Regions from separate parts of the Homo sapiens genome. Here region 2 is linked to region 1. Evidence: fine-mapped expression QTL. A gene starts in region 1. The other region holds a variant in brackets. All regions are shown on one strand. Distances are from middle to middle.

Region 1 (16,643 bases):
AAAATCTGGTAATACTGACATAAATCTTCTAAAAGCACATAACAGTAATCCTTGGATTTAAAAGGCATAATCGAAGAAGTCACCAATAAAATAAAGCATTTTAAACTCATGTAAAGGAATTTCAGAATGAAATCAGTTATTCCAACAATCCGAAGTACATCAAAAAGTCCAAAGAAGGCTTTTAAAAAATTAAGGTGTAATAAAGCAACTGAAAACAAAAGGTATGACATAGAAGAACAGAAGATCATGCTAATAACACCAATAACCAAGCACACTAAATCTTTGAGAATCTTTCTCTTAGAAAAGCGTGACTGCCAATGCTTTTGTTTGCATTCATAAAAGTTGTCAGCAGCCCAATTTCAACAGAAATTCCTGTTACATGCTGCAAAATAAGCTTGAAACCTAGAATCAAAATATACAGAAGACTGTTTTGCAACACATAAGGATAATACAATTCTGAGAAAGAGATGGTACCATATTCGCCAGATTCTCTGGCAGGATCATCTGGTTGCCTTGCTTCTCTGTGTGAATGACTGACTGCAAAGGACTCTGTATGCATCCCTGGGTCTAGCTAAGGACACCTTACCTGAGATTTCTGGTCAATTTTGTTGTCCTGGGCATATTGGAAGGTTGAGGCAATGTCACTGCCTGCAGGTACCGGAGGACTGCGCAGTCAGCTGCAGTTGGCTTCCATGGCCCTATATACTTTTTCTCTGATGCAAATGTTGGCTTCCAGGGCTCTCTATTTCCTCTCATGAGGATGAGGGTGGAGGCCTTGGCAGTCGTAGCAGAAAAAGCAAGAAATGCCACCTCAATCCTAGTCAGGGCCATCATCCTCAAACCCTACCACAAGCAGCTCCAACCCAGGGCCATCATCCTCAAACCCTACCACCAGCAACTCCAACCCAGGACCGTCATCCTCAAACCCTACCACAAGCAGCTCCAACCCAGGACCATCATCCTCAAACCCTACCACAAGCAGCTCCAACCCAGGACCATCATCCTCAAACCCTACCACAAGCAGCTCCAACCCAGGACCATCATCCTCAAACCCTACCACAAGCAGCTCCAACCCAGGCTGTCAGCCCTTTAAATACCTTTTGGCAAGGAAATGACATCATCTGGTCCCTTTAAAAAAAAAAAAAAAAAAAAGGGCCGGGCGCAGTGGCTCACGCCTGTAACCCCAGCATTTTGGGAGGCCCAGGCGGGCGAGTCACTTGAAGTCAGGAGATCACGACCATCCTGGCTAACACGGTGAAACCCCGTCTCTACTAAAAAAAAAAAAAAAAATACAAAAAATTAGCTGGGCGTGGTGGCACGCACCTGTAATCCCAGCTACTCAGGAGGCTGAGGCAGGAGAATTGCTTGAACCCGGGAAGTGGAAGTTGCAGTGAGCCAAGACTGCACCACTGCACTCCAGCCTGGGCAACAGAGTGAGACCCCATCTCGGGAAAAAAAAAAAAAAAAAAAAAAAAAAGCCTGACACTGGCTAGAGTGTCAAGAACGACTAAGAGGAAGCCAGAGACAATGGAAGGAGGGAAACTGATTCTCACAATAGACCAGGTGAGGGATGATGGTAGCTGGAGCTATAGAGGGAGCAGGGGAGACAAAGGAAAGGATGGGTTCAACATACACTTTGGAGACAAAAGCAACAGGATTGCTGATGCAGATGTTGTTAACGGAGGAAAAGAGAAGATTTCCAGCTTGAGCAAATGAGTGAAATGGAGATATTTGCTGAAATGGAGAGAATTGAAAGAGATTTGGAAGAATATCAAGAGTTCGGTTTTGAACACAGTAAATAGGAGATACCTGTGAAAGACTCCAGTGGAGACACCCACGTCTGAAAAATCAGGACTGGGCTGGAGATATAAATGTGGGGCTCTTCACCTCATACCACAGATGGCATTTAAGGGCATGAGAATGAAAGAATAAATAGAGCAAGTGAATAGAGAGCCCAGAAGCAAGTTCTCAGGAATTCTAATAGAAGAGGGAAATCTAGCAAAGAGACTGAGGACTGACCAGAGAAGGAGAGAAAAGTAGTACGTCTAAATATAACAATAACTTAAACATTCTGAATTCTCTTGTCTGGAAAAATAATGTTTCAAGTCAAATCCTGATGAGTCAATAAAAGCTGTCCATTAGATTTAGAACATGAAAGTCACTGGTGAGGGAGAGAAAAGGAGAGAGGACTGATATTGAAAGGAGAGAGAGAGGATAAATTGGCAGAAAGGTACCTGAGAAGGTGAAGGGAGATGGGCTCCAGCAAAACACTGGAAGCTGGCCTGTGAGAGAAGTAAACCTGATGTAAAAAGATGGATTGCTGGTTCTAATTCCTTTCCTTCTAGAGCAGGGAACTGAAAACTGGAAATGCAATGTGGTGCAAACTTTCTGGAGGGTAATTTGTGTACACATATTAGGAACTTGTATAAATGTACACACTCTTCGATCCAGTGAATGCCATTTCTAGAGATTTATCGTAGAAAGTATTAACTATTTATGCAAAGATTTGGATACAAAGATACAGTTGCTTTAATAGTAAAAATGTGGAGACACCTAAATGTCCAATACTAAAATTGGTTAAGCAAATTATGATATATTAATACCAATATAATGAAATACTAAATAGACATTAACAATGGTGCCATAGAAGATGATTTATGGACGTAGAGGATTGCTGTATTATGTTGCTGTACCCAAACTACAACACATTATACTTCACATGTTGCATCTTTAGCACAACACAGTGCTTCATAGAAAGCAGGCATGCAATATCTATGATTGTTACTGGACGGATCTGCTGAATCAACACTAGTTGTATTAAATATAATATACTGATCTTGTTAGACTCTCACAGCCATATTCCTCATATTTATTTCTTTCAGCACAATTCATAATCATTCAGTTCCAAAACAAATACTTTACTCCATTTTCCAAACCTCCCAAGAATTGATTTCCCATCTTGTTCACTAATTTCAAAGAATACTCCAGTCACAGCTCATCAAAAGGGCAGAGCAGAAAAAGAAGTTTGTTTTTAAAAAAGCCTTCAATGTTAAACAAAATGAATGCACTTCTTAATGTAATTTAAAACTTGCAGGCCAGGCACGGTGGCTCACACCTGTAATCCCAGCACTTAGGGAGGCCGAGGTGGGTAGATCACGAGGTCAGGAGATCAAGACCATCCTGGCTAACACGGTGAAACCCTGTCTCTACTAAAAATACAAAAAAATTAGCCAGGCATGGTGGTGGGCACCTGTAGTCCCAGCTACTTGGGAGGCTGAGGTAGGAGAATGGCATGAACCCAGGAGGCGGAGCTTGCAATGAGCCGAGATCCAGCCACTGCACTCCAGCCTGGGCAACAGAGCGAAACTCTGTCTCAAAAAAAAAAAAAAAAAAAAAAACTTGCCAAATATTGTAAGCAAAAGTATGTATATACAGACACACATATATATATATACACACGTATATATATATCTATATACACATTTAAGAAACAGAGAAAAACTTTCTTTTAACACAGTTTTAAAAAACTAAAGCACTGACAGATTGAACTATAAAACAGCATAAGCCAAACTTTAATTGGTACTCTTCTTTACTTAGGCTGTCCACTAGCCCTTTGTGTAGTGGTTAAAAACAAGGACTTGAATGTGAGACAAACTTAGTTTCACATCCTTGTTCCGCCACTTACTGGCTGCGTGACCTAGGGCAGTTAACAGCTCAGAGCCTCAATTTTCTCACCTAGAATACCTACTGCCCAAGATTATTGTGAAGTCAAATAAGATTGTGAAGGTTAAACATCCACTACATGGAAAATCGTCAATAAGTATTTATTATTCATACCGCATTCAAAGTTGTAAGGTAATGCTATTCAAAGTGCGGTCTGAGGACCAGCAACTCAGCTTCACTAGAAATGGAAATTCTCAGGCCCCATCCCGGGTCTATTGTGTGGGGGTAGAGCATGAAATCCATCTTAACAACCTCTTCCAGTGATTCTTATACCTAATACAGTTTGAGAAGCTATGTTGTAAGGAATCCAAAAATGTAATGCAGTTTAACCCCCTACATTTTCATTTTATGGAAGACTAAACTAAAGTAGTAAGATCCTCAGCTAACTTGTTGAAAGTCATTCAGTAGTCTTGTGGAAGAGCTGAGATTTAACTCCAATTACCTTATCTAGGTCTTCAATCTAGGGGGGCTAAGAAGTGGGAAGCTGTTTGCTGTGATTCCAGAGAACTAGATAAAGAAAGAAATCAAGCAGCAAAGACAAGAGACCTACTAATAGAAATGTAAAACGTATCCCATTTTCTGTTCTTGGACACTAGGTGAATAACCATTAATGCATCTGATAAGCAGAAAGGATGACACAGACCTGTAAACAATCTGCCAGATTTTCTTAGTGAAATGTTGACTCACAGGATTTCTTTTAGACTCCTAATAATATAGTACAATAATTAGACATAGCATAACACAGTGACTTATTTTCATTCTTCATTATTTTTCATTTTCCATTAATAACTCAGCAAAAACCATCCGATGTTTACATTCAACATTCTCTGAACTTTATTGCAAATATACTCCAGAAAAACACCATAAAATGTTTTGGTAGTTTTCCCTTTAAAATAATCAGAACTGCATATTGACAGATAACATGAGTAGACCGCACTGAACAAATAACATTAGCCAATTTACTACCAAACATGTGGGCTTGCATTCATTTACCTGTCTGCGTCTCTAATTTCAAAACTTTCAGTAATCCATCTTCACCACCGCATGCTATGAACCCTTGTTCCTTGTTCCAGGATACACACTGCAGCTTCACGTTATTGGGAATGGAAATCTGAAAAAGCAACCACAGCCGCACTAGCAACTTTTCACGAAGGAGCTGGGAAGTAAGTCTGCAGGAGATGAAAGCTGAAGAAAATCTTCCAAGAAGAAAAACGAACGGCCTTGCAGAAAAAAAATGAGCTGTTGTGAAAATGGGCATGGTCCCCTGAACTGACCCGGGCTCTAGCATTTGGGAAAGAGGGAAAGAAGTGCACAAAAGAGAAGGATAGTGACTGCGGAGGAAGCCAACGCCAGAGTCTCACCGGATGGATTTTTTAAAGGGAGGACGGGGAGAGGGTATAAATCCATACCACCAGTCCCTCTTCCTTTTTACCTACAACTTAGGCTATCCTATTGTTATTTCTTTTCTCTTGCCCAATGGCTCGTGGTGATCCAAAGAGTTTAAATCACGTGGATCAGCAACAAGTGGAGGAGGAAACATAGGGTAGCACGTGGCGACTTATCCTCAAGCCACCCAAAAGGACCTAGCCAGGGGCAGGAATGGGAGAGTGCTGCGAGAGGGCAGCAAGCTCGGCCAAAGACTGAGGCTCTGGGAACCGCAGGAAGAGGTCGGAGGCTGGACCCGGCGGGAAGGATGGCTGCGGAATGGCGAAGCCACGACCAGGACCGGGTGAAGGAGCCTGGCTTCTCGGGAAGGCAGCGGGAATCGCCGCAGGCTGCGGGAATGGCGGAGAAACGAGGACGCCCCCCAGGAAACTCACTTTCTTGCTCAGGTAGAAGAACATCGTGGGATCCCCGAGAGGGTCACGGCGGCCGCTAAGGCCCTCGACAAGTAACGGTTCTACGTCTCCAATCGGGAGTACCAGCAGCTCCGGAAAGCTCCCGTCGCCCTGGCAACCGCTGTTGCCCGGTCGCATCCGGGGCGCCGCGGGACACTTCCGGTGACGCCCTCGCACCGGGCACCGGCGTAGTGCGCCTGCGCGGACGTCGATGGGTTTGTGGGCGCAGGGCGCGAGGCGCGAGGCGGTAGCTGGGCTAGTCCTGTTCCCTGGCGTCTGGGCCTTTCTGCTCTCCGCAAGGAGCTGGGTCGCGACCTGTCACTGCCAGCCGTGCGCTCGCCCTCTGCGCCCCGTCTCGTGGTCACTGCCGCCCTCCCTCCCGCCACACCTGTGATGATCGCTATGGAGCCGCGCCTCAGGTGGCATTACTATAAACCTAAGAGGAGAGGCGCCCGTTCGAATAAGGGCAAATTATTTAGTATTTTGTAAGTTCCAAAGTTCCAACATTCTTGAAAGGGAAAAGCCATTTACTGTATTTGATAGGCTGGCGCCACTGGCCAGATGAAAGTGCAAATGTGCGTACTGAGATCTTACAACCCTTCTCTGTGTCTTTGGGGATTGGAGAACCTCTAGAGCAATTTAGGAATAGAAGATTTTGTTTATTCCGCTTGTTTTGATATTTTTTAACAGTTTAATTATTACCGCAACCCCGAGGGTCCTTTTAAAGGAATTTCTGTAAACGTTGGGTAATTACAGCGTACAATTGCTATTGGGGCATGGCCTCCCATTTTACAAATATTTGAGCGTTTGGTGTTTTCTCGTCTAGAGTCGACTGTTACATATTCTCTTCTTTTTCTTACCTTCTTTCTTCATTCTCCTTTGTCCTTTTGGAATGCTTGAGAGTTACAAAGCCTCAAAGTCTAAGGCATAGGGCAGAAATCCAAGTAGAACCACTCATGAAATTATTTGGTCTCACCTATGTTTTTATTTCTGGTTTTCCCTTTTACCATAATCTAGCATGTAATTTATGCATCAGTAGTTAATTTCCCCACTTGGAGTCTTTTCCCATCTCAGACAAAAATAAAATAAAAATCCTCCAATCCTTTGACCTGGGTGATTTGTCTCACCCAGCACAATCTATTATAGAATTGACAATAGTCCCTAGTGCCTTTCCTAGCAAATCTAAACTCCATCCAAAATCAGATCTTCCCTCAATCCTAAATGTTTTTACTAGGGAGCCCCCACCTCAAGTAAGCCAATATGCTTTCTGCAGGGCAACATTCCATCCGGCTCTGCTTCCCAAGCCACTTTATATATGGTCCTACCCTCTTAACAGGCCAGTTGTGCCTAGCCAAACCAGCACAAATCAGTCTCCATGAGGAATTCTTTCCAAACTTAACCCAATCCCATTCAGATAATGTTTGCTTTCCATTGTTTGTGTGTCTGTTTAAGATACATTGGCCCCTGTCCATAGGCTCCCTATACTGGACGCATGAGACAAATTAGTATTATCTAACCCAGGAGTTTCCAATAAACTGGTCAAGACATAATTAGTTGAAGCTAGTTACTGATGGTGACACCTGAAAACTCACCTCTCTTTATCTTTCCCTTCTTGCACATGAACTCTCATTTATTCCTTCTATACCACCATTTCTCTGTGGTATATTAATATGTATTACTGATTTTGGGCTCAAAAAAGTCTGGAAAATACTACTGTAGCTCTATGTCATACCCTTTCAAAATTTTTGAAAAGTAAGAGATGCTTTATATATTTCCTTGGTATATTTAGTTTTTGTTCCTTCCTTAAAGTTTATATTTTATATTTACATCTGTAGGATATATTTGCTTCTCAGGAGCTTATATTAATGTAAAGCTCATCATTATTTTATCCAAATTTAGATAATTTTATATTGAAGCCTTTCTTTTGAACCTGAACTTACACTTTTAGCCTCAGGAGTGTGAGATTAAACTATAGGAGGAGAATCAAACTTCTGTCTTTTGATAAGAAACTGTTGAATATCAAAATAACTGTTAATTCAGTATAATTTAAAGAAATATCTTTAATAGACAAAATTGATGAGTCATCAAAAATAGACATGATAATATGTAAAGGTAATAACTTTTATTATATTAAAGACAATGCAAACGAAAAACAGAATTGAGCAGTGCAAAATTTAAAGGACTGTTTTGTTCTCAAAGTTGCAAGTTTCAAAGCCAAAAGAATTATATGTATCAAATATATAAGTAAAAAAAAGTTAGACTTTCAAGCCTGTAATCCCAGCACTTTGGGAGGCTGAGGCAGGTGGATCACTAACATTAAAAAGACAACATTAGATTTTGTCGATTTATAGCAATTTTATAAATATATAACTTTGTCACTTGGATCCTGAAGCAAAATAATAAAGTGAATTTGGGATTTTTGTACTTGGTAAAAAGTTTAACACCCTAAATTCACAACTAGTGCTCTTTAGTAGTACATTTCTTTCAAAGACCAGAATGAATTAAAAATGGCAATGTAATGTTCACTTGATCTGTGTTAACTATTTTTAGATATGTGTATTACAATCTATTGATCACATCTTCAATAATACTCCAACAAAATAAGCAAAAAACAAAAAGTGTTAAACAGTTCAAAATTACATTCATCTCAGTTATATGAAGTTGTATGTGTAAATACCTTGTACAATTTGCACTCTCAGTAATAAGATTGATTTATATTATAAATACTATCAAAAGAAACTAGACCTAAAGTTTCCATTGTGAATATGGTTATCTAATATAAACATTTAAAAATTAAATGGCTCAATTAGTAGATAAAGAAACACTAAACTTTTCATTCTATTTCCTACCAATCATTTCACAGTCATAACTTAGAGACACTAAAGTTTGCTCTTAATAAGTATCTGCATATGTATTTCCTTGGAAGAATCATGCTGATTCTGCAGAAGATCTTCATACAATTTATCCAGTAATATTCAAGCATTAATACAGATAATGGCAAATTATTAGCAGGAACATTGGCAATAACAGGTGTGCAAAAGAATGCATGAGTATTAAGTACACCAAGCTGTCCACATTTTCAGGTGAGAAATTGGAGCAATTTAACGATGTATTTGTCCATATTCATTTATTTTCAACTTCTCCAAAATGTCATCAAGTGGCAAGTTGTTAAGGCCAACACCATTTATTTTTACACATTAGAAAATATAAACACACTTTCAAACACTTCACAAGATAAAATAATTATGTCCTATGAGAAGTGAAAAAAAAGAGCAAAACTGTTTTCTCACCAAAAGTTGAATTCAGTCTAAAAGTCAAAAATCCTGTTCTTCAGAGAGCACAATAAAAGTAGACCCCTGCAGTGGTCTTCAGATGTTTTTGTTCATATAAAATGTAATTGGAGTAGCATCTTAGTGTGAGGGATGGGGGAAGCAGTGTTTATGAAGTATTGATTAAAGGGATAGTTGGATTGTCCCTTTGTTTGGCTATCTCAAGATTCTGCTGTTCTAACAAATGCACCTTAGTAGATCTAGGGTAAATGAGAAGTATGCCTTTCTTGTGTGAAGTTAGGAGAATGGTGATATGGAAATGAGAGACGGGAAAAGAAAATGCCAGCTGATTCCAAGTAGTGTCTTAAGCAAGTGAAGGATTTGGAAATTGATTCTTTCCAATTATCTGTACCTCCCTTAAAAGTCTCTACATACGCCTAGATTGTACCTACCACAATCTAAATTCCACTCCTCTGGGGTACATAGGAACAGAGTTGTTAACTTGAACTGTTCTGAGAAACTTTTCCCTAGTTACTCCTTTGAAGAAAGAACTGATTTTGAAAGTTTCTGAGATTGTATCATGTTACATTTTAAAATCTGCTTTTTGACCACTTGGCTAGTCAAAGGGTACAACTGTGTGTAATCTGAGATATCACACCCCATTAATCAGCTGACTTGCTTTGTACATGTTCAGATTCTGAACTAAGAAAGCCATATTAAGGAGTCATTAGCATAAATGTTCCATCTGTTATGTAAGAGCATCATTAGGAGCATATACAGTTATGGAAAAGCACTAGGGGACAAAATAGGCAGCTTTTACATGTAAATATTGAATGGGTGAAACAGTCTATTAAACCATTAGAAAAGAACTCTAAATTTTTTAAAGTTGTATATTACCACTGCTCATATTAAAACCTAACAAATAAGTCACTTGCCTGTGGAATGTCTTAAAGTGTTTGGCTCGATCGTAGTACCTTGGTTGGCTCCAGGCAGAAGGAGAAAACCTTCCAGAAAGGATATGTTTAGTGTTCAGTCTTTGAAGATACGAGCTGACCTTGTCCTGGAATGCCAGTGTAGCTTCACATCCACAAGCATCTTCAGTGGAAACAAGTCTTCGTGCTTCCTCAGTGGCTGAAGACAATGACAGTACACAAATATACTATCTAGGAATAGCTATATAGGAATCATAACAAATCAGGAAATCCACAGTTGAATATTTCCACCGTTAAGACTTACCTAAGTGCATTTTCCAAGAGGTAAAGGGATAGATGAACAAACAAAAAGACGAGAAAATACTTATCACAGAAAAATTCATCTTAGGATACATTGGGGAAAATGTTTATAATTGTCAAAGCTGAGTGATGCTTAAGTGAGGGTTCCTTATTTTATTCTCTGTACTTTTGTGATTGCCAGAAATTATTCATGATATAAAGTAAATTTAGAAAAACATGGTTGGTATAGGGGGAGGCCAGGGATATAGAAATAAGACAATGTTTATGTAATACTGTGTAATTAAGAAAGGAAAATGGGCCTGGTGCAGTGCCTTATTCCTATAATGCCAGCACTTTTGGAGGCTGAGGCAGAAGGATCACTTGAGGCCAGGAGTTCAAGACCACCCTGGGCAACGAAGCAAGGCCCTGTCTCTACAAAAAAGTAAAATAGTTAGCCAGGCATAGTGGCACACACCTGTAATCCTAGCTACTCGAGAGGCTGAGGCAGGAGGATCACTTGAGCCCAGGAGTTCAAGGCTGCAGTGAGCCATGATCACACCACTGCACTCCAGCCTGGGTAACAGAGTAAGACCCTGTCTCTTAAAAATAAATAAATAAAAATAAAACTAGGACAATAGTCCTCTATTTGTATGGCTAAAATATACCAAAGATGAAAACTAGGGCCAGGCGCAGTGGCTCACACCTGTAATCCCAGGACTTTGGGAGGCCAAGGTGGGTGGAACGCTTGAAGTCAGGAGTTCAAGACCAGCCTGGACAACATAGTGAAACCCCGTCTCTAATAAAGACACAAAAATTAGCTGGGCGTGGTGGCCCATGCCTGTAATCCCAGCTACTCGGGAGACTGAGGCAGGAGGATTGCTTGAACCCGGGAGGCAGAGGTTGCAGTGAGCTGAGATCGCACCACTGCACTCCAGCCTGGGTGACAGATTGAAATGTCGTCTCAAAAAACAAAACAAAAAAAAAGGATAAAAACCAGGTTAAGTCCTGATTTCCTCTAGAGGACTGTTATTCTATTTAATGGTTTGAAGTAAGAGTCCTAGTTCTTACCAATAAATACTTTGGAACTGAAAATTCACGTTTGTATTGACATTTAACCAAATATGAGAGGTGATAAAAGTAACTCCTATTTCTTTATGGAATTCAGTCAGGCAGCTATTCCTATTCAGTATCAGGGCTCCTCCTAAAGTTGTGAATAGAAATAAGAGTAACTTCCCAGGTCTGAAGACTGGTGTATCATCTTCCAATGGAGTAATTCTATTGCCTGAGGACAGGAAATGGTCCTTTGCTGCAACATTTTTACTCTTAACATTTTACAAAGATCCAATATAGGGATGGGAGATCATAAATTCATTAAATATAATCTATCATCTATCCACCTGTCTGAATCCTATTGAACCTTTTAGGGACAGCCAGTCCAAATCCCATCTTAGTTAATCAGTCAATAAACCAGGAAGTATCTATTGAAGATCAACTACATGTCCATTATCCCTGTACCCATAAGATGGGTATATATAATACTTGTTCAGTGTCTGTCGTGCCTGATAGTCTCTAAGCTCTAGCAGGGCATGGGTTCAGTGGGATAGTCTTAATTACAACACTTCATAGAAAATTGTAAACCTGGATTGTAGAAAAATTGAAAGTTGAGAAATGGATCTCAAACTCCATTTCTCAAACCTGGGTTGTAGCAAAATTGAAAGTTGAGAAATGGAGAAATGGTGCTTATAATAGCACCAGAAGGAATAAAATAGTTAGGAATAAATATTTTTAAAAGTACAAGACTTGTACACTGAAAACTACAAAACAATTTTGAAAGAAATTAAAGAAGACCTAAAATAAAATAAAATTAAATTAAATTAAAGACATACCATGTTAATGCAATGAAAGACTGTTAAAATGGCAGTACTCTCCAGGAAAAGATGCCTCACCTCATTAGTAACCAGGAAATGAAAAAAACATCCACTGGATTGGCAAAAATTTAATTCAACAAAACCAAATGTTGGCAAGCAAATTCTGACAAGCAAAAGCATTGAGGGGAGGGTGGGAATGAGTGAGTGCAGGGCATGCTCCTGGACCATCAAAGAGCCCACTGTGGCTGGACCAGGATGCAGGAAGAAGCAGTGAATCTGGGGGCAAATGTAGTAGAAAAGTTTTAAAAGCCAGGATGAGAGAAGTAGTTACCATGGGCTGAGGGGAGCGGGTGATGGGCAGTTATTGTTTCATCGGCACAGACTTTTATTTTGGGATGATAAAAAATTTCTGGAGATGGATACTGGTGGTGGTTGCCCAACAATGTAAATGTACTTAATGCCACTGAACTATACACTTGAAAATAATTGAAATGGTAAATTGTATGTGTATTTTACCACAATAAAAAAAATTCAGACTTAGGCAGAAAGTTTAGTTATTAAGAAAAATGTGAAAAACAGAGAAGACAGAAACAGATCATGGAGGGTAGGCTGCCTGGTATAGGGGTATCATTGTTTTATTCTGTAGACCAGTGGGAGCCACTGGAGAATTCTGACAGGGAGAAAGAATCACAACTGTGTCTTAGACAGAAAGAAAAAAGCTTGCTCCTGAAAAATTTTCCTACCAAAGGAAATAGCCTTAAAGGGCTGATCCTCACCTGAACATGTTTTCTTGTCCTCATTTAAGGTGTAGCCAGGATAGCAATCACAGTGGTAGGATGCGGCCCCATCACTCACACAAATGTGCTGGCAACCATGAGAGCCTAGGGCACACTTGTCACGGACTGACCGCACGTGGTGCAGGAAAGAAAATATTCACACATTAAATAGAAAAGTAAACACAAATGTTTGAGAGGAGAAGCTTCCATTTGGTCCCCACAAGTGCTGAGAATGTAGTAGTCAGTAGTCAGCAACAGGCCCCATGCTGCAGGAGCAAGCCTGTTTTCTCTTCCCATACCTCTCATCCCTTTGGCCTCACATCACACACACTCCTTTCCTTTATATCTCTCACAGATATCTAAGGGTACCTTTCCTTTTTTTCTACCCACAGCACTGGGCAGCACTGAGTCTTGACTATATTCCAGAACTTACCTCCAGCCTTTCCCGATGACTATCAATGCTTCTAGCATCCCCAGCTACTCATGGATCATCATCATCATCACCAAAAGTAATGTTTTAGGGACCTAATCATACATGGAGCTAAGTTTGATGCTGCACAAAAAGCACTATATTGACCAAGTGCCTGCCTTCATAGCTTACAAAGTGTAACAGAAAAGACTGACCAGGAGACACATGCACACACACACACACACACACAAGCACAGATGGGGAAATGATACAGGGTTAGTAATGATGATGTGTATGATTAGAGAGTGAAGTACTTACTATCTATCACAAATAACATTTCAGGGACAAATGCAGTTTGCCCAAATTTGAGTGGAGAGGAGAGCAAAGTGCCATACTCATCCCATGTTCAGACTGGCCTAGGACAAATAAAACAGTAATTCTCCTTTGAAATCCAGAAAGCCTTCCTGGAAGACATAGGTTCCTCCTCTGCCATTGCAGGAACCAAAATAGTTTATTTCCCTCTAATTTTCCTCTTAAATGTCATTTCATGGGCAGAACCTTTTGTGGCTCACTAATGCCTATAGAATAGCTTCTTGTGAAATGTGAGACGCTATATAATCTATACATAAAGTGCCTTTCCAACCTTAATATGGCTATTCCCTTTCAGTGCTACAATTTAGATTTTTTTTTCAGCAAAATGCCTTATAGCAGGGTGTTTCATTTTTTTCCCCCTCATTCCAGGTTAGTACCCACTCTACAGGTGGCAAATGGACATGCTTCCAGCCCCTGGCCCTTATTTGGGGCTCCACATTTAATTTACAAGCCTTCCTACCACTAGCAACGGAAAAGCAGACCATTAGAAGGGATCTGATCCATGGTATGTTCCCCAGCTTTATAGCAGTATTCACTATTACTTTAAAATATATAAATAGGCCAGGCACAGTGGCTCACACCTGTAATCCCAGCACTTTGGGAAGCCAAGGCAGGTGTATTGCTTGAGCTTAGGAGTTCAAGACAAGCTTGGACAAAATGTCAAAACCCCATCTCTACAAAAAAATACAAAAATTAGCCAGGTGTGGTGGCATGTGCCTGTAGTCCTAGCTACTCAGGAGGCTGAGATGGGAGAATCACTTGAGCCCGGGAGGTAGAGGCTGTATGAGCCAAGATCACACCACCGCACTCCAGCCTGGGTGACAGAATGAGACCCTGTCTCAAAAAAGAGAAGAAAAAAAAATATATATATATATAACTAACTTTCCCACTAGTATTCTTTCTCTTCTGTCCCTCTTCACTGTCCTGTGCTTTGTACATTAAGACAGTAAGGCTTAGTGGTTAAGAGCCTATGTAACCACTAGAGGAAGTACCTGGGTTCAAACCCTGGGTCTGCTACTTGCTAGCAGAGTAACCATGGGCAAGTTACTGAATCAGTTTCCTCCTAACGTTGCTGTGAGTATTAAGGTACATTACTGTATCTAAAATGCCTAGAATCCTGCATGGCCTACAGTAGGTATTGAAGAATATGGAATACTGGCATCTGGGAGTGTTGTCTGCCTTAACTGAAAATTTTCTTTGATTTATGTTTTTTTTTAAAATAGATTGCTTCACTTTATTCCATACTATCTGTTAGTTTAAATGGAAATTTGTTTTTGGTTTGTTTTCCCAGGTCTTCAATGTTCCTGGCAGCTTAAAGTACCAACTGGGACACTTGTCACTAGTTTGAGAAGTGCAGCCATAGGTGAGTTCTCTCCACCCCAACTTTCTTAGTCATCCTGCCCTGAACAAATCAGCTCAAGCCAGTCCCCCGCCAGTGCCACTTTCCACTTGTCTCCATTGAAACCTTCACCCTCCTTCAAGGCCCACCACCAGCCCTTCGCAGATGCCCACCTCCCCAGCCTCTACAGCCCTTTGTTTCCATCAGTCCCTCTCCCTGGCTCAGTCTCTGCTTTCATAAGGAGCCGGCTCTCTGTTCACCCAGATTTAACTTGCTCAGAGGCAGAAACTTAGGCTTCTTTGTATGCTCCCAATGCTTAGTTCCATACTGGGAACAAAGTAGGTGTCCGGTATTTTTTTACTGGTTTCCCTTTAAAAAAAAAAAAAAAAAAAAAAAAGAGGGGACTGGGTGACATGCCATTTCCCTTTGTCTATCTTGATGAAGTCTGTATGTCCTCAAGGGAGAGGAAAATATATGTCAAATCTAAAACACATTCAATATGCCAAAGCTAAACGGCACCTTGAGAGCTTGGAATTTCTCTCAGGAGTGTTTTTACATTTATAAATGCCACCCTGTCCTGCCAGTAAGTTTAAATCAAATTAATGAGGATTAACAGCACTGGCCTGGGCTCATTGGCCAACGTATAAGGCTGAGTTTCACCAATGATTGATCGTCTAGAAACTGCCAGGGAGTGACTGGCCTCAAACTTACTGGAAGATCTGTGTGGGTCTAATTCAGGCATTCACAAAGTCTTCTTTACTAAAATCATCCAGCTTTAAGATTAACACTACAGAAAAGTTCCAGGCCAAGTTTTAACTGGAAAAAGATCAGTTCATCCTATCACACCAAATAGTTACTGTCCAACTGACTTCCACTAAAGTTTTCTCTTTGCTTAAAAGTCTTCAGTGTACAGAGCTATAAAATTTTCCTGGATAAGGACCCTACATTTAGTTAGTTTTTCTCATATCCCCCACTCCCTACCTATTTCCCAGTAATTTTCTGAAGTAATCTATGTTTGCTCCAGTGAGCTCACCACCCTCTGAGCAATGTGTGCCTTCATCTAAAAGTGTGATAGAATGTCTGAACCTTGATCTTAAGTTACCTTTAAAAACCTCTTTGCTGGTGAGTTGCAAGTTGGTTTCATGTGAAAGACCCAAGTATGAAAGAATTTTTTGAGTGGATCTTACCTGAACATGTTTTTTTATCTGCATTCAGAGTGTAGCCCTCATAGCATTCACAATGATGGGACCCTGTTCTGTCATTCACACAAATGTGCTGACACCCATGGGTACCCAAAGCACATTTATCTTGAGCTGTGAAACAAAAAGTCAGGAGAAAAGAAATAGAAGGTGGAAAAGTATTTTATTACCCAGGATAGAAACCTTATTTGCAGCTGGAAACATATGAGGAAAACTTACTGGAAACTATTCAAAGCCATTGGCACTGTTTTTTTCTAACTAGAAGTTAACTGAGTTAAGTGAAATCCTGCACATACAATAATTATTCTCTGACCTTCCACAATTGCTTTTGGAAATCATCAGTATTGAGTTTTTATAACCTAAGTATCTCATAAATACTTTCTAGCATTCCTTTTAGGCTTATTGTACTTATCCCAACTCAGCGGGATACCAACAGTTGTGTGGCTAATTACATTAGATTCAGAAAAACATAGAATTAGAGTTTGAAGAAATTGTAGTTCAACCCTCTCCTATTTTTTAAATGAGGGAAAGGAGCGCGAGGGAGACCATTTGATTCAGAGCAGCATAAAAACTCAAGACACACATTTTCATTCAATGCACTTTCCTCTCTACTGATATATTTTTAAACTATTTTTTACT
Region 2 (16,643 bases), 42 kb after region 1:
ATAAAAAAGGATGAGTTCATGTCCTTTGTAGGGACATGGATGAAATTGGAAATCACCATTCTCAGCAAACTATCGCAAGGACAAAAAACCAAACACCGCATGTTCTCACTCATAGGTGGGAATTGAACAATGAGAACACATGGACACAGGAAGGGGAAAATCACTCTCTGGGGACTGTTGTGGGGTGGGGGGAGCGAGGAGGGATAGCATTGGGAGATATACCTAATGCTAAATGACGAGTTAATGGGTGCAGCACACCAGCATGGCACATGTATACATATGTAACTAACCTGCACATTGTGCACATGTACCCTAAAACTTAAAGTATAATAATAATAAAAAAAACCTAAAAAAATTGTAGTTGTTCTATTTTATTAGTTATTGCTTTTAATCTCTTACTCTAATTTATAAATTAAACTTTATCATAGGTATGTATTATAGGAAAAAGCATAGTATATAGAGGGTACTGTTACTATCCATGGTTTCAGGCACCCACTGGGGTTCTTAGGGTATATCCCCCACACATAAGGGGGGACTACTGTACAAAGCTCCTTTCTAACAGACAGGGAACAAAGTCACTCTTTTTCTGGTTTCCAGGTCAAATACTTTTCTCCCTCTCCAGCCCTTCCTCCAGCCATTCCTTGCTCTCATACACCCTCATAATATTTGCACAGTAATTTATGGTCTGCCAACCCTTCCGGGTCTGTTACCTCACTTGATCCTAAGAACAACTCCGAGTTCATAGGTCAGTTATTTGCATCTTTCTGATTTTATAGATGCAAAAACTGAAGCTCAGATCCTAGTTAAATTTCCCAGGGTCAGAGTGTAATCGCTGGGTGAAGACAGGAATTGAATTTCAACCTTCTGATGCCAAACTTTGTGTTCATTCCACCATCCCAGTGTTGCCTCTCTCGTGTGCCTGGAATTCCACATTATTTGGCAACACTCATCTTGTTTCTAAATTATTTTCTCATAACCAAAGTCATGACATTTACAGAAAAAGCAACCTCAGAAAAGCAAAGGTACAACTTTTTCTTTCAGTCAACTCTTGGGCTTATTTATAACACATTCCTTCTTTGAAAGCAGGAGTTCTGAAAATAGCACATCTATCCTTTGCCTATTAAGGGATAGTGGAACAATTAGGCTCAGAACAAAGCTAAGTCCACGATAACTGTGAACAAATTAGCCACAGACTGAAAAACAGCGTGAGTCACCAGAGGGAATAAAATGTACAACTTATCAGTGAAAGATCTCTTGGTTTCCTATTGCCAGAAACTTTAAATGTAAGTGTAGTATGTGTACTGGTATATTCCCAATTATATTGAAAATGATCTATTAGCAGTATAAAATTTGTGGAGGGGAGAGAAATTATTTCATTCAGAAAACATTTAATTCCCTCCCCCTCAGCTTTTTGTGGGTCACTGTGCCAAATATAGATGGGAAAAGAGAGTAAGAGGTCCTCATCTCCAACTTGTTCCTTAGCAGGGACACAGGACACACGAGCTGTAGTGGACTTGCATCCTAGGTACTGAAAAGGATTTTATTTCTTTTTTGATTATGAAGCTTAGTTTGGCTGGATATGAAATTCTTGGTTGGAATTTTTAAGAATGCTGAATATAGGTCCCCAATCTCTTCTGGCTTGTAGGGTTTCTGCTGAAAGATCTGCTGTTAACCTGATGTAGCTGACCTGCCCCTTCTCTCTAGCTGCTTTTAATATTTTTTCTTTCACATTGACCTTGTATTTTTAGTAGAGACAGGGTTTTACCATATTGTCCAGGCAGGTCTCGAACTCCTGGCCTCAAGCAATCCACCCGCCTTGGCCTCCCAAAGTGCTGGGATTACATGCATGAGCCACTGTATCCAGCCTGAGTTCTGAAATTGAATCAGTAATAATAATACTCCTACCAACTGGAAAAGGTCCCAAACAGATTCACAGCCAAATTCTACCAGACATATAAAGAGCTGGTACCAATCCTACAGAAACTATTCCAAAAACTTGAGGAGAATTCCTCCCTAACTCATCCTATGAGGCCAGCATCATTCTCATACCAAAACCTGGCAGAGACACAACAAAAAAAAAGAAAACTTCAGGCCAATATCCCTGAAGAACATAAATAAGGAGACCTGAAAATGTGGAATCGACTTTGGAACTGGGTAATAGGCAACAGTGTGTGCAGGGGAACTGCCTTTTATGAACCAAAACCCAGCAACACATCAAAAAGCCAACCCACTGTGATCAAGTGGGCTTTATTCCTAGGATCCAAGGTTGGTTCAATATATGGAAATCAATGCATGTAATTCATCACATAAATAGAACTAAAAACAAAACCACATGATCATCTCGATAGACACAGAAAATGCTTTCAATAAAATTCAACATCCCTTCATGGCAAAAACCCTTAAAAAACTATGAGGCATCAAAGGAACGTAACCTCAAAACAATAAGAATTATCTATGACAAATCCACAGCCAACATTACACTGAATTGGCAAAAGCTGGAAGCATTCTGCTTGAGAACTGGAACAAGACAAGGATGCCCACTCTCCCCACTCCTATTCAACACAGTACTGGAAGTCCTAGTGAGAACAATCAGGCAAGCGAAAAAAATAAAAAGCATCCAAATAGGAAGAGAGGAAGTCAAAATATCTCTTTTCACAGAAAATGTGATTCTAAACTTAGAAAACCCCATAGTCTCTGCCTCAAAGCTCCTAGATATAAACTTCAGCAGTCTCAGGATATAAAATCAATACACAAAAATCAGTAGCATTTCTATACAACAATAATACCCAAGCTGAGAGTCAAATCAAGAATGCAATCCCATTCACAATAGCCACAAAAGACTTAAGTAGCTAGGAATACAGCTAACCAGGAAGGTGAAAGATCTCTATAATGAGAATTACAAAACACTGCTGACAGAAATCAGAGACGACATAAACAAATGGAAAAAGATTCCATGCTCACAGATAGGAAGAATCAATATTGTTAAAATGGCCATACTGCCCAAAGCAGTTTACAGATTCAATGCTATTCCTATTAAACTACCAATGGCATTTTCACAGAATTAGAAAAAACTATTTCAAAATTCATATGGAACCAAAAAAAGCCTGAATAGCCAAGGCAATCCTAAGCAGAAAGAACAAAGCTGAAGGCATCACATTATCCAACTTCAAACTATACTACAAGACTACAGTAATCAAAACAGCATGGTACTGGTACAAAAACAGACAGACCAATGGAACCAAATACAGAACCCAGAAATAAAGCCATACAAACTACAGCCATCTGATCTTCAATAAAGTTGACAAAAATAAGTAATGGGGAAAGGACTATTCAATAAATGGTGCTGGGATAACTGGTTAGCCAAATGCAGATTAGAACTAGACACCTTCACCATATATAAAAATAACTTAAGATGGATTAAAGACTTCTATTAGTCTGTTCTTGCACTGCTATAAAGAAATAGCTGAGACTGAATAATTTATAAAGAACAGAGGTTTAACTGGCTCACTCCACAGGCTGTACAGGAAGCATGGCAGCATCAGCTTCTGGGGAGGCATCAGGGAGCTTTCAGTCGTGGCAGAAGGCAAAGGGGGAGCCAAGCATCTTACATTGCAGGAGCGGGAGCAAGAGAGAGAAGGGGGAGGTGCTACACACACAGATCTCGCAATAACTCACTATCACGAGAACAGCAGCAAGAAGGATGATGTTAAACCACGAGAAACCACCCCCATGATCCAATCACCTCCCACCAGGCACCACCTCCAATGCTGGGGATTACAATTCAACATAAGATTCGGATGGGGACACAAATCCAAACCCATATCAAGACTTACATGTAAAACCTAACTGAAAAAACAAAACAAACAAAACCCCTAGAAGGACACCTAAGAAATACCATTCTGGATGTAGGCCCTGGCAAAGATTTCATGAGGAAGACACCAAAAGCAACTGCAACAAAAACAAAAATTGACAAATGGGACCTAATTAAACTAAAGAGCTTCTCTGCTCTGCTAAAGAAACTATCAACAGAGCAACCAGACAACCTACAGAATGGAAGAAAATATTTGCAAACTATGGATATGACAAAGGTCTAATATTCAGAATCTATAAGGAACTTAAGCAAAAAACAAAACAACAACAACAACAACAACATTAAAAGTGGGCAAAGGAGGCTGGGTGTAGTGGCTCACAGCTGTAATCTCAGCACTTTGGGAGGCTGAGGAAGGTGGAACACTTGAGGTCAGGAGTTCGAGACCAGCCTAGCTAACATGGTGAAACCCCATCTCTACTAAAAATACGAAAATTAGCCGGGTGTGGTGGCACACACCTGTAGTCCCAGCTACACAGGAGGCTGAGTCATGAGAATCGCTTGAACCCAGGAGGTGGAGGTTGCAGAGAGCCAAGATCGTGCCACTGCACTCCAGCCTAGGTGACAGAGCGAGGACCCTGTCTCAAAAAAAAAAAAAAAAAATTGGTAAAGGACATGAACAGACACTTCTCAAAAGACATACACATGGCCAATAAGTAAATGAAAAAATGCTCAACATCACTAACCATTAGAGAAATGCTAATAATCAGAGAAATCCATCTCACCCCAGTCAGAACAGCTATGATTAAAAAGTAAAAAGAAACATATGCTGGCAAGGTTGCAGAGAAAAGGGAACACTTACACACTGTTGGTGGGAATGCAAATTAGTTCCATCTCTGTGTAAAGCAGCATAAGGGATTTCTCAAACTTAAAACATTCTACCATTCAACCCAGCAATCCTATTATCAGGTATATACCTAAAGGAATATAAATTATTCTCCCAAAAAGACACATGTACACATATGTTCATCACAGCACTATTCACAATAGCAAAAGCATGGAATCAACCTAAATACCCATCAACAGTGGACTGGATAATGAAAATGTGGTACATATATATTATGGAATACTACAGTCATAAAAAAGAACAAGATCATGTCCTCTGCAGGAGCATGGATGGAGCTGGAGGCCATTATCCTAGGCAAATTAATGCAAGAACAGAAATCCAAATACTCTCACTTATAAGTGGGAGCTAAACATTAAGTACACATGGACACAAAGAAGGGAGTAATAGATACCAGGGCCTACCTGAGAGTAGAGGGTGAGGATCAAAAAACTAGCTATCAGGTACTATGCTCACAACCTGGATGACAAAACACTGACAAAACCCCTGCAACACAATTTACCCATGTTACAAACCTGCACATGTACCCTCTGAACCTAAGAAGTTGGAAAGAAAAAAAATAAGACATAAAAAAAAGATTGCTACAGCAATCACTTTTCAAACCACCGGTATTAATTTCTGTCCTGTGATTCAAGAAATATCTTCACCACAAATTTAGAGTTAATGGATTAAGAAAATGATTTCTAATTAACTGTGCATCATTGTGCAGTTGTCCCTTGGTATCTATGGGGGACTGGTTGCAGGTTCTCCCTCCAGATACCCAAATCCACAGTTGCTCAAGTCCCTTATAATAAAATGGTATAGTATTTGCATATGACCCATGCATATCCTCCCATATTTTTAAAATGATCTCTAGATTACTTATAATATCTAATATAATGTGAATGCTACATAAATTGTTATAGTGTATTTTTTAGAGAACAACGACAAGAATAAAAAGTCTGTACATGTTCAGTACAGATCCAACTATCCATTTTTCCCCCCAAATATTTTCAATCCACAGTCGATTAACTCCATGGATATAGAACCCATGGATACAGAACCCATGGATACGAAGGGCCAACTGTATTCTCAAAGTTAAAAAAAAAATAAACACTGGCACTCTGAATACACTGTAATGGAAAATGTCAGGGTTTATCTTAAAAAAAAGTAACGGATTAAAAACAATGACAACCCTAAGTATTTAAAGAGATTTATTAAATCATCTTATCACAAAGATGGAAACATATACAAACTAGAAACATGCAACCATCATCTTCCACAGTCAAGTCACAATGTCAAATATTTTTCTTGCCTCTGCAGATGAAAAGTTCAGATCTTATACCCAACTACTTACTCACCCCGAATATTTAAGTCAGTCTTCCTGAAAGTACTCAGGGTAGCAAGTAACAAAATGCAAACGATTATATAAAGAAAGTGCAGTTAAAAAGGAAACTATGTGGCAAGTACCCTCTTTCCCTTCCCACCCCCCAATTAAAGGCAAACAATGGCACTTTGCTCTTGCTTAACCTAGATTGTCTTCAAAAACTATTAAAATGTAAAAGACTTAACAAAAAAACAAAAAGACGTTTAACAGATGTCAAAAAGCTCCTTAGTGTTTGAAAATAAATGCTTAAACAAAAGACAACATATTTTATATCAAACAAGTTTGAAGAGCCCTGAATTGCAGCATTCTGTAACATAAACAAACAAAAAGCTGGTATAGGATTTATTGTCAAAGGCAGAATTTCTTCAGGCAGGTAAGTAAGGAGGTGGTGGTTCTTTTTCAGGCATTTTCACGGCCATTTCATAGGTTGGCAAAACGTACTAAAGAGAGAAAAAAAATTGTATCAGATTTAATTCTCCTTTAAAATCCTTTGTGAGATAATTCAGCTTTCAGACTTTATGCCCTAAATAGGGTTATACAAAACCATAAAGAAGAGCTGAAGAAACTGTTAGCTAAAATGTTCCCAAGTAGATGCCTCAATAACCTGGAATTTTACCAAGATTGCTAGCGAAGGGGAGGGTGGAGAGAGGGAGGTGGGGAGAGAGAGTCCTGCTTCTGGACAAGGATTCCTAGACAGGCAGGCAGTGGGTGCCATTGCTCTGCCCTCATTCCAGTGTGACCGAT[G/A]AAGTGCCAGTGCCAATTACACTTCAGGTGTTGAGGAGTTGGGTTAAACCATGCAATAGGAAACACCCAATAAGACGCTAGCTCCTGGATCCTGACTTTCATCAGAATCAGTTTGTAGTCAGAAGATCATGAACTTATATCATGTCTTCGAGGGTAACAGGCACACCTATGCAGTGGAGGAGTGACATTCTAATCGAAGTGACTCCAAGTCTGAAAGCCTGGCCCTAGATGGGCCACATATATTTTATATGCTGAAAACCTGGGAAGGTAGCACAGCAGCAATTAGAGGGCTGTGAAAGGTAGGCTTCCCCAAAAGACCCATGAAACCACTGTATTCATCTCCCCAGACAGGTCAGCTCCCCCGTTGGATCATATGGATGTTTTCTGAAAACAACACAAGTTTCAGTCAATGGAACTCCCCATCCTTAGAAGCCCCAGGCTACATGGGCCTAACACAGCTGTTTCCTGTCATCTCCCCTACAAACATGACACTAATGAGGACCTCTAATGAGTAAATCTAACAGCCAAACTGGATGAGACAAGCGACCCAGGTACTCAGGATTCCAAGTGGAAAATGTTGAATCCTGTGGATTTTAAGCTGTTCATAAAAGTACCCAGGGTTCATGCCCAAACCATAGGTTACAGCATGAAAGAGAAAGTCAAGCTCCAGGTTCTTCTCCTGGAACAGTCAATAGTGACTGGTGACCTTTTACTCTATCCAACAGTAGCTAACCTGAGGAGGTGCTTCAAAGGCAGGGTACACAGCAATCTCCGGCACGTTTCGGTTGTTGATGTATTTATAGCAGTTCCAAACACAGTTAATTAGATAAGCCTGGAAGAATAAAAACAAAGTTGACATCTGCTAGAAACTCAACAGACTACCTGCTCTAAAATGCCAGTGACTTAGAATGCTTTCCCCACACATCCTCTGTGTAGAAGGGAGCTGACCTCTGTGTGGACCCAGCACAGGCCAGGCCCTTTCCCTACTTGCTCTCATTTAAGTGTCATGAGTTTCATCGCCAACATTTCAGAGAGAAACCAGAGATGGAGCTTCAATTCAGGTCAACCCACTGTGCTGCAGAAGAAATTCTGGGTTTGTGAACCTTGGGAATTTTAACAGATTTTCAATACAAATCATGAACCCCTTTTCAAAAACATAAAAAGTAGGTCCTTTCACTCAGAGAAGGATCCTGACAGTTACAACCATTCCTTGGAAACACAACAGAAACCATTCCCTAGAAGCTATCTCTGCTCATGTGCCAGAATAAACACTGTCCCCACAAATCCTCAATCTCCTGTGACTTGTAAGGTGAAAGGCAGCAAAAAGGTTTAGATTCACAGTGTCAATCTCAGTCACCCCTAAAGATTTAGTCAGCAACGTACCTTAAAAATGATGAATAAGGCAAAGAACACAAGAACAATGAACAGGAGGCAGCTGGAGTCCAAGGCCAGGAGGTCATCTTTGTAGGGAAAATCAGGCTATTAAAGAAACACACACACATTTACAAGTCAGCCATCGCACTAGCACTTGCTGATAACCTGAAGAGCATCTGAAGAATACAAAGGCACCAAAGTCAAAAGTGATATTTAATAAAAATGTATAAGCAGAATTTAATTCAAAGTGCTTTTAAATTTTAAGCCTTATCACCATTAATGCATGCTAACAATCACTTAGAGTACATTTGATAACCCACAATGCTCCAAAAAGTCTAAATTTAGCTCGTTTTCTCTTTACTTTTCACTATTTTCCATCTTTCTGGCCTTTGGAAAAACACTATCGCCTATATGGCACTGGAGATCAGTCCCTGTGTCACTTGCATCATTAACTCAGGAGATGCTCAGTTCTGTGTAAGTTCTACAGATAAACTGGGCCATTTTAATGCTACAAGGGGAAAATTATTTTTCTAAATGTCAATCGTTTGTCTCAACTCTCATCAGACAGGGGCAAAAATACACCCACTGGTTACAATGTCAGGCAAGACATAAGTTTTACTGCAGACATACTCTGTTCTACTGAAAAGCATCAGCTATATTCATTTAAATACTTAATCAGCCCTGACTGTGTACAAGGCAATGAGCTAAGTTCAGGGAGAAAGGTGTTATAAAAGAAGAATTTCAGATTTAAAAACTAACCAACAGAGGAAATACCTTCCAGTCTGAGGCACTAAGTGAACAAAACAGAGGAGAGAAAACACCAGGGTCTCTAAAAGGAATAATAAATTTTTATCTTCTTTTCTATAAAGCTGATTTAATTTTTTTAAGTTATGCTTGTTTTTAATGGAAATGTCAACAAGAAGGCCTAATTACATTTTCATTTAAAAAGCAACATAAACAGAAATCCCAAAGGACTGAAAAAAATAGAAAAAAAAAATTTTAAGAACACACTACTCCCCAAACCCCAGCCAGGTTGTCTCCTTGGGAAAAAAGCTGTTTTTTTGATCTTCATCTATAAACAAAAAGAAAAACACAGAAGGTGGAGCTCATGAGGGAATGCTATGCTAAGGGTTTTACTCAGAAGGCAGGGAGGCACCACTTGAAATTTCTCCCCCGGAGATGACATGAGCAGAGAGCCACACAGAAGCCGCTGACCGTGGCTGACCAGGCCAACAGCCCTGCCCCTGGCCACCTTTCTCCAGGCTTCCCCACCCTCCCTCTGTGTGCCAGCCACCATGGCCAGCTTCTAGTGCCCTCACTATGCTGCTTCTTGCCTCAAGGTCTCTCTTTTATCTGGAACATTGTCTTCTATACTTTCTCTATCTTAATTCCTGTTCAAACTCCTGAGTACAATTCAAATCTCACTTCCCAGCCCAGGTTTAGTACCCATGTGATATCCACTCCCACAGTAACCTACAATGGTGTATCAGTTAACTGTCAACTTCCTGATTCCTTCACCAGGAAGTAAGCTCCACTGATGCATCTCTATGACCTAGCAGAGTGCCTTGCACATAAGAGCAACCAGCGAATGTTTTCTGAATAAATGAATGATGAATTTGGTGGTGTGGAAAATGGGCTAGGCAGGAAATCTGGTAGTGGGAAGAAAAGTTCTGAAAGACAGCACTTTGGAAATGAACTGAGGATACTCCTGCCAATTTTCATCTACCTAGATCCCATATCTCCTTCTGACCACCTCCACGACGCCCTCCTTGGCCACCCAGCCCAGAGTTTTCCCTGCCCCCCTCCATATGACATTAATCGAAGTTCCTTATTTGCTGCTGCTGTGACAGCTCCCGCTTGTTATCACAGGTAACATCTTCATGTATCTTGACTCCCCAAATATTACAGTTTGCTCGCTAAACTGTAATATTCGCAGTTATCTTTATATCCACACCATTCACCAACAGTGCCTAGCAAAGGGCTAAAAACATAGTAGGCACTGGAATACTTGCTACAGATGTCTGTAAAGACAATAAGCTAGTCACTTAAAGAGTGCCATACACAGTCAAATTACTGTACCTTTGGATGCTCAAAAACAAAAGCTGAACTACTAGTTCCATAATATCCATTTCTAGGAACTCTTAATACTGCATTATCCAAATGGATGGTAAGAAATTACTCTACTTTCATCTTGCCAGTTTTGTCACAGTAGCTAAGAGAGCAGAAATAATTATTTTAAGACACTTTCAAAAGCAAGCGGAGTAGTTAAAAATAATACCTAAGGCTGATTCAGAATTTAAATGTAAACATTTTACTCAAAATGAAAAAAAAATAAGTTTAATGAGCATACACACTTACTAGTTGATCCAGATATTCTTTGATTCTTGGCAAATAGGTGAGAGAACTAATAGCAACCAGGCAACTGAGGACGAAGTCAAAAAGTCGGTAACAGAAGAATGGAATCAGCCAACCCACTTGATACTGGAGAAAAAATAACAACCATAACATTGTATCACATATAGGAAATTACTAAGCTCCCCTAAGGTCAAACTCTAAAAGATGAAAATACAGTATACTTACAGAAATTGCTCCATAAACCAGCATTGAACTGATTATAAACATAAGAACAGAGACGGCAAAAAGAACACAGGCATTATCTAAGAAAACAAAAACAAAAATCTAATTAAGCTACTTACACAACAAAAAGAACAAAACTTCACTTAAAGCTAGCTTTAAAATATTAAATTTAAATATTTTCAAAATTGGCTATAAAAAGATCTAAGGCCAAGAGGGTAAAAAAAAAAAAAAAAAATCAAAGTCTCAGCATGAAGTAAGGAACCTTGAGACATTCACACAAAGCACTTATTTGTTAAATCGCTCCAACGACTCACTGACATGGGTGTAGGATGGCACATGAACCACATTCTCTGCTAGAGAAACAGGTCCCTGTGCCCTTATGAGCCCAGGAATCTGAAGATGTGCAAACAGATCATTATAATCCAATGTGTCAAGTGCTACAACAGAGGCAGAAACAATTTGCTTTGCCTGAAGCATCAGGAAAAAATATGAAGAAATGACACAAGATGGGTCTTATGAGTAGGGTTTAGCTGGAAGGAATGGCTGGCAATTGCTTAAAAGACAAGTGTATTAAACTCAGAATGCTACATACATTACCCTTTGCTCTAGATAAATATAACCTGAAATTCAAATTTCGCCATTAACCTCACTTCCCCACCCAACCTCCCAAACACCAAAATTCATTGCTTCCTGCACCCTGGTATCTATGTTAACACACACTACTTTCTTCTTCGTTTCTCAACTCTTCCTCAGGTTGTTCCAACTCTCCATTAATCCATGTTCACTAATTTTTTCACAAAACAGCCAAGTAATCTCAAGCAATTCTAAACCGTGCCTGACTTACTGAATTTCTTAGCACAAATCTGTAGTTGATTCTGTGACTCTGGACAGTTTTTTCTTTCTTTTCCTGAGACAGAGTCTTGCTCTGTCGCCCAGGCTAGAGTGCAGTGGCGCGATCTCGGCTCACTGCAACCTCAACCTCCCAGGTTCATGTGATTCTCTTGCCTCAGCCTCCCAAGTAGCTGGAATTATAGGCAAGCACCACCACATCCAGCTAATTTCTGTATTTCTAGTAGAGACGAGGTTTCACCATGTTGGCCAGGCTGGTCTAAACTCCCAACATCAGGTGATCCGTCTGGGCAGAGATTAAGAAACTGGGGGGGATGGGCACGGCAACCCACACCTGTAATCTCAGTACTCTGAGAGACTAAGGTGGGAAAATTACTTGAGGCCAGGAGTTCAAGACCAACCTGGGCAATATAGCAAGACCCTGTATGCACAAAAGATGTTTTAAAAATGAAAAAAGAAAAAAAATACTGAGGGCACTAATAATGATGAATGACTAGAACAACTGCTGAATATTCCCTATTGGGTAAATGTATATACAACTTTTTTTTTTTCTTTGAGACAATCTCACTGTCACCCAGGCTGGAGTGCAGTGGCACAATCTCAGCTCACTGCAACCTCTGCCTCCCAGGTTCATGAGATTCTTTTGCCTCAGCCTCCAGAGTAGCTAGGATTGCAGGCCTGCGCCACCAAGCCCAGCTAATTTTTGTATTTTTAATAGAGACAGGATTTCACCATGTTAGCCAGGCTAGTCTCAAACTCCTGACCTCAAGTGATTCACCTGCCTCGGCCTCCCAAAGTGATGGGATTACAGGCATGAGCCACCATGCACAGCATGTATATATAATTTATCACTGGGCAGTAAAACCTCATCAATATTTGGCACTAAACTAGGAATAGTCCTCTTTACTTTTTTCTTAGAGGATACAGGATTGATAAATGTTAAGAATTTAAAGGACTTCCCTGCTACAACATGCAAACTTCCACTTAGAAGAATTCAGGTAAAAACAAAATATGAAATTAAACAGGTATTATCAAACTTGAAAGCAAAATTTGTAATTCAAATAATCGGCTTTCAAGAGTCTGCTATGGGCTGGGCACAGTGGCTCATGCCTGTAATCTCAGCACTTTGGGAGGCTGAAGTGGGAGGGTCCCTTGAAGCCGGGAGCTCAAGACCAGCCTGGTAAAGACAGGGAGACCCGATCTCCACAAAAATTTAGCTACTCAGGCAGCTGAGGTGGGAGGATCACTTGAGCTCAGGAATTCTGGGTTACAGTGAGCTATTACTGTACCACTGCACTCCAGTTGGGACAACAAAGTAAGACCTTTTCTCTAAAAAACTTTTTTTAAACAAATAAATAATATAAATGTGATTTTAAAAATGAAGGGCGCTGGCTGGGCGCTGTGGCACGCCTGTAATCCCAGCACTTTGGGAGGCTGAGGCGGGTGGATCACCTAAGGTCGGGAGTTCGAGACCAACCTGACCAACATGGAGTAACTCTAAAAATACAAAAAATTAGCCGGGTGTGGTGGTGTGTGCCTGTAATCCCAGCTACTCAGGAGGCTGAGGCAGGAGAATCGCTTGAACCCAGGAGGCAGAGGTTGCCCTGAGCCGAGATCGCACCACTGCACTCCAGCCTGGGCAACAAGCGCAAAACTCTGTCTCAAAAAAAAAGAAAGGCATTTATCCCATTCATAAGGGTAGAGCCCTCATGGCCTAATCACCACCCAAGGGTCCTACCTCTTAATATCATCACCTTGGAGGTTAAGCTCCAGCATGTGAATTTTGGAGGGACACATATATTGTAACCATAGCAACTTCTCCTTTCTACTAGTAGCTACATTAAAAAAAAAGTCTTATGAAGCCTGCATGCTTATTTTGATTTCAAGGTACATTTTACACATTTCTCAAAAACTTAATAGTCCATTACATTTTCTGGCTAGAAATGCTCTATTGTAATCCTCACTGAATCTCTCTGAAAAACCCATCAAAATACTTTCCTGCCTCAGCAAGAATGACTTAAATATAATTTAACTTGTTACCCTTATTATGTAACCATTTTAACTTTCTGAAATGTAACTTAAGCATAATCTAATCAATCCCCTAAATAACCAGTGTGTGTGGAGACAGACAGACATGGGCCAACAACATTTTGGTCAACAATGGACTGCATATATCATGAGGGTTCCATAACACTGTAATAGTGTATTTACAGTATTACTATATTTTTCCATCTTTAGATACACACCTATTTGCCACTGTATGATAACTGCCTACAGTATTCGGTACAGTAACCTGCTGTACAGGTTTTAGCCTAGGAGTCTCTACCACATCGCCTAGGTGTATAGTAGGCTACGCTATCTAGGTTTGTGTAAGTACACCCTATGATGTTCACACAACAATATCACCCAGTGACATTTCTCAGAATGTGTCCCCATCATTAAACAACACAGGACTGTATATAAAAATTAGCAGGGGAGATTTTTTTGTTTTTCTATTAAACACATACCAGCCATTCTCTCAGACGAATAGTAATTACCGATGACTTCATACTGAATGTTGACAGCTGGCATGGAGTTTGGATGAGTCACTTCCACAGTCAGCAAAATTGCCATCAATAGGTTTACTACCTGGAAAAGATAACATTCTATCAGTTACATTAATTACCATCACGACGCAATCTTAGCACAATCTCTAGATGTCCTCTCATATTTAAGATTGTCTTACTTGAAGTAACAAAGATATAAAATAGTGGGAGACTACCTGTGAGATAAAACAATACGCAATTACCACTATGAGAATAATTTAAAAATAAATATTTTATAAAGTATAAGTAATATTAACCATTTGAGAGATAAGATGCTTAACCAATACACCAGAAAAAAATTAAAACTAAAGAATCATTACAAATGGTTCATGTTCGAAGCTACCTATTTATTCATATACCAATCTCAGAATTTCTGGATTTGAAGAAGTTACTGTTCATCTGTTATATTTATTCATCAGATGCCCGAAACCCCTCCACAGCATCTCTCATCAGGTGACAGAGAACTCACTATTTCCTCTAGAGCTAGACTCAAATGCTTAAGAGACTTACCAAGATACTGAAAGTCACTTATCTACTAGTCTTACTTTTGTGTGTGTGTGTGTATGTGTATGTGTGCGTGTGTGTGATATGGAGTCTCACTCTATTGCCCAGGGTGGAGTGCAGTGGTGCAATCTCAGCTCACTGAAGCCTCCCCTTCCTAGGCTCATGTGATCCTCCCACCTCAGCCACCTGGTAGCTGGGATTACAGGTGCCCACGACCATACGCGGGTGATTTTTGTATTTTTAGTAGAGACGGGGTTTCACTATGTTGGCCAGGCTGGTCTCTAATTCCTGACCTCAAGTGATACACCCAGCCCTAGCCTCCCAAAGTGTTGGTATTACAGGCGTGAGCCACCACGCCCGGCCTTAAATCTACCTTTTGAGATAATGTGCTCTCCCTTCTAAATAAGTGCTCCAATACCTGAAAACAGCCTCCAAATACTGTGTTCTCTAGAATAGACATGCAGATCTTTAAGCCATTCCTCTGACTAGCATGTTTCCTAGCTACCTATTTCCCTTTTGTCTTCCTCTTTACACATGCTCCAGTTTGATGGACATATATTAAAATGAGGTAAAGTCACCCTGGTCAGAACATAATGGGATCTCAGTTCTCATATTCTGGCTAACGAATTTCAATTAATGCAACCTGAAGTTGTACTGAGGTTTTTTGTTTTTGTTAGAAACAAGGTCTCACCATATTGCCTAGGCTGGTCTTGAACTCTTGGCCTCAAGTGATCCTCCTGCTTTAGCCTCCCAACATGCTGTGATTACAGGCATGAGCCACCGCACCCAGCCTGCATTGGCTTTACAAATTTTCTGAATATCACATGAGAGTAACTCCCTAAAACACCAAGTTCTTTTTCACACTTGATTGTGCTAAGCTCCCACCTGTACAGTTGGATTCAGAGGCCCAAGCATAGGCCTTAATATACCTGTAATTGAGTTTCATCTTATTACATTCTTGCCTATGAAGATTTTCTGGATGTGGATTCTGACACACTACAGATTTACTGTCTCAACTTCCTGAATTTAGGATCAGCATGTAATCAGTATTTCCATCTAAGTTACTAACAAAAGAGAACAGAGGTGAGGACAAAGCTGCCAGAGGCTGCCCCTTCCCATTAACTAGCAACTTCTGAATAAAATTGTTTAGCTCTTTAGAGGAACAGCCTGCTGAAATCCCATTATAATATCTGAATTTTCCTAGTCTCCCAGGGTTGTAAATCCATTTTAAAAGGAAATGAGTTGTGCCTGTAGTTGTTGGCCAATCCCTGTGGTATCCCAGGAGGCTTCACTGCATTTAAGTACTCAGAAAGAGTATTGTTAACGACTCAAGACAGAAATCTCACGTAGGATTGGAGTTAGGCTTCCTTATCTAGCATAGTAAAGTTCACAGAATTTGCCCTCCTTCCCTTTGTGAAAATGTGAACATCTGGAATTTTCAAGGGTTAAGTTCCTATCAGTAGTATTTTAATTTATTTAGTTTTTGAGATGGAGTCTCGCTCTGTCGCCCAGGCTGGAGTGCAGTAGCGCAATCTCGGCTCACTGCAGCCTCCACCTCCTGGGTTCAAGCGATTCTCCTGCCTCAGTCCCCGGGGTAGCTGGGACTTTTTTTTTTTTTGAGACCAAGCCTTGCTCTGTCACCCAAGCTGGAGTGCAGTGGCGCAATCTCAGCTCACTGCAGCTTCCACCTCTTGGGTTCAAGCAATTCTCACACCTCAGCCTCCCAAGTAGCTGGGACCTTTTTTTTTTTTTTTTTTTTTGAGACCAAGCCTCGCTCTGTCACCCAGGCTGGAGTGCAGTGGCACGATCTCGGCTTACTGCAGCTTCCACCTCTTGGGTTCAGGCCATTCTCACACCTCAGCCTCCCGAGTAGCTGGGACTACAGGCGTGCACCATTCAAGCCTGGCTAATTTTTGTATTTTTAGTAGAGGT

Alleles and levels. Alleles are on the strand shown, and positions count from the first base shown. SD is a standard deviation of normalised expression in the study named.
For the expression in adrenal gland of the gene that starts at base 5,756 in region 1, allele G in region 2 goes with a higher level than allele A (small effect, 0.34 SD a copy in GTEx).

Evidence for each region. PIP is the estimated chance that this variant, and not a neighbour inherited with it, causes the effect.
Region 2: its variant is fine-mapped to the expression of WDR35-DT in adrenal gland (GTEx, PIP 0.98).

Annotation. Positions count from the first base shown.
Region 1 is chr2:19,984,449-20,001,091 of GRCh38, forward strand. WDR35-DT (WDR35 divergent transcript) reads left to right here and starts at 5,756. Exons shown (of 3, transcript NR_110235.1): 1 at 5,756-6,046; 2 at 14,758-14,829. WDR35 (WD repeat domain 35) reads right to left here and starts at 5,657. Exons shown (of 27, transcript NM_020779.4): 1 at 5,544-5,657; 2 at 4,717-4,834. The coding sequence starts at 5,567. It overlaps MATN3 (matrilin 3), which reads right to left. Exons shown (of 8, transcript NM_002381.5): 5 at 15,993-16,118; 6 at 12,686-12,811; 7 at 9,851-9,961; 8 at 7,604-8,718. The coding sequence ends at 8,663. It also overlaps the pseudogene RNFT1P1. RefSeq lists enhancers at 5,388-5,437, 5,454-5,957, 5,588-5,637 and a silencer at 5,798-5,877.
Region 2 is chr2:20,026,762-20,043,404 of GRCh38, forward strand. LAPTM4A (lysosomal protein transmembrane 4 alpha) reads right to left here. Exons shown (of 7, transcript NM_014713.5): 2 at 14,130-14,250; 3 at 10,777-10,853; 4 at 10,555-10,677; 5 at 8,206-8,301; 6 at 7,556-7,654; 7 at 5,889-6,518. The coding sequence ends at 6,444. Among named protein-coding and RNA genes, the nearest start is that of LAPTM4A, 17 kb to the right of the region's middle. The variant G/A (reference allele first, on the strand shown) is at 6,823.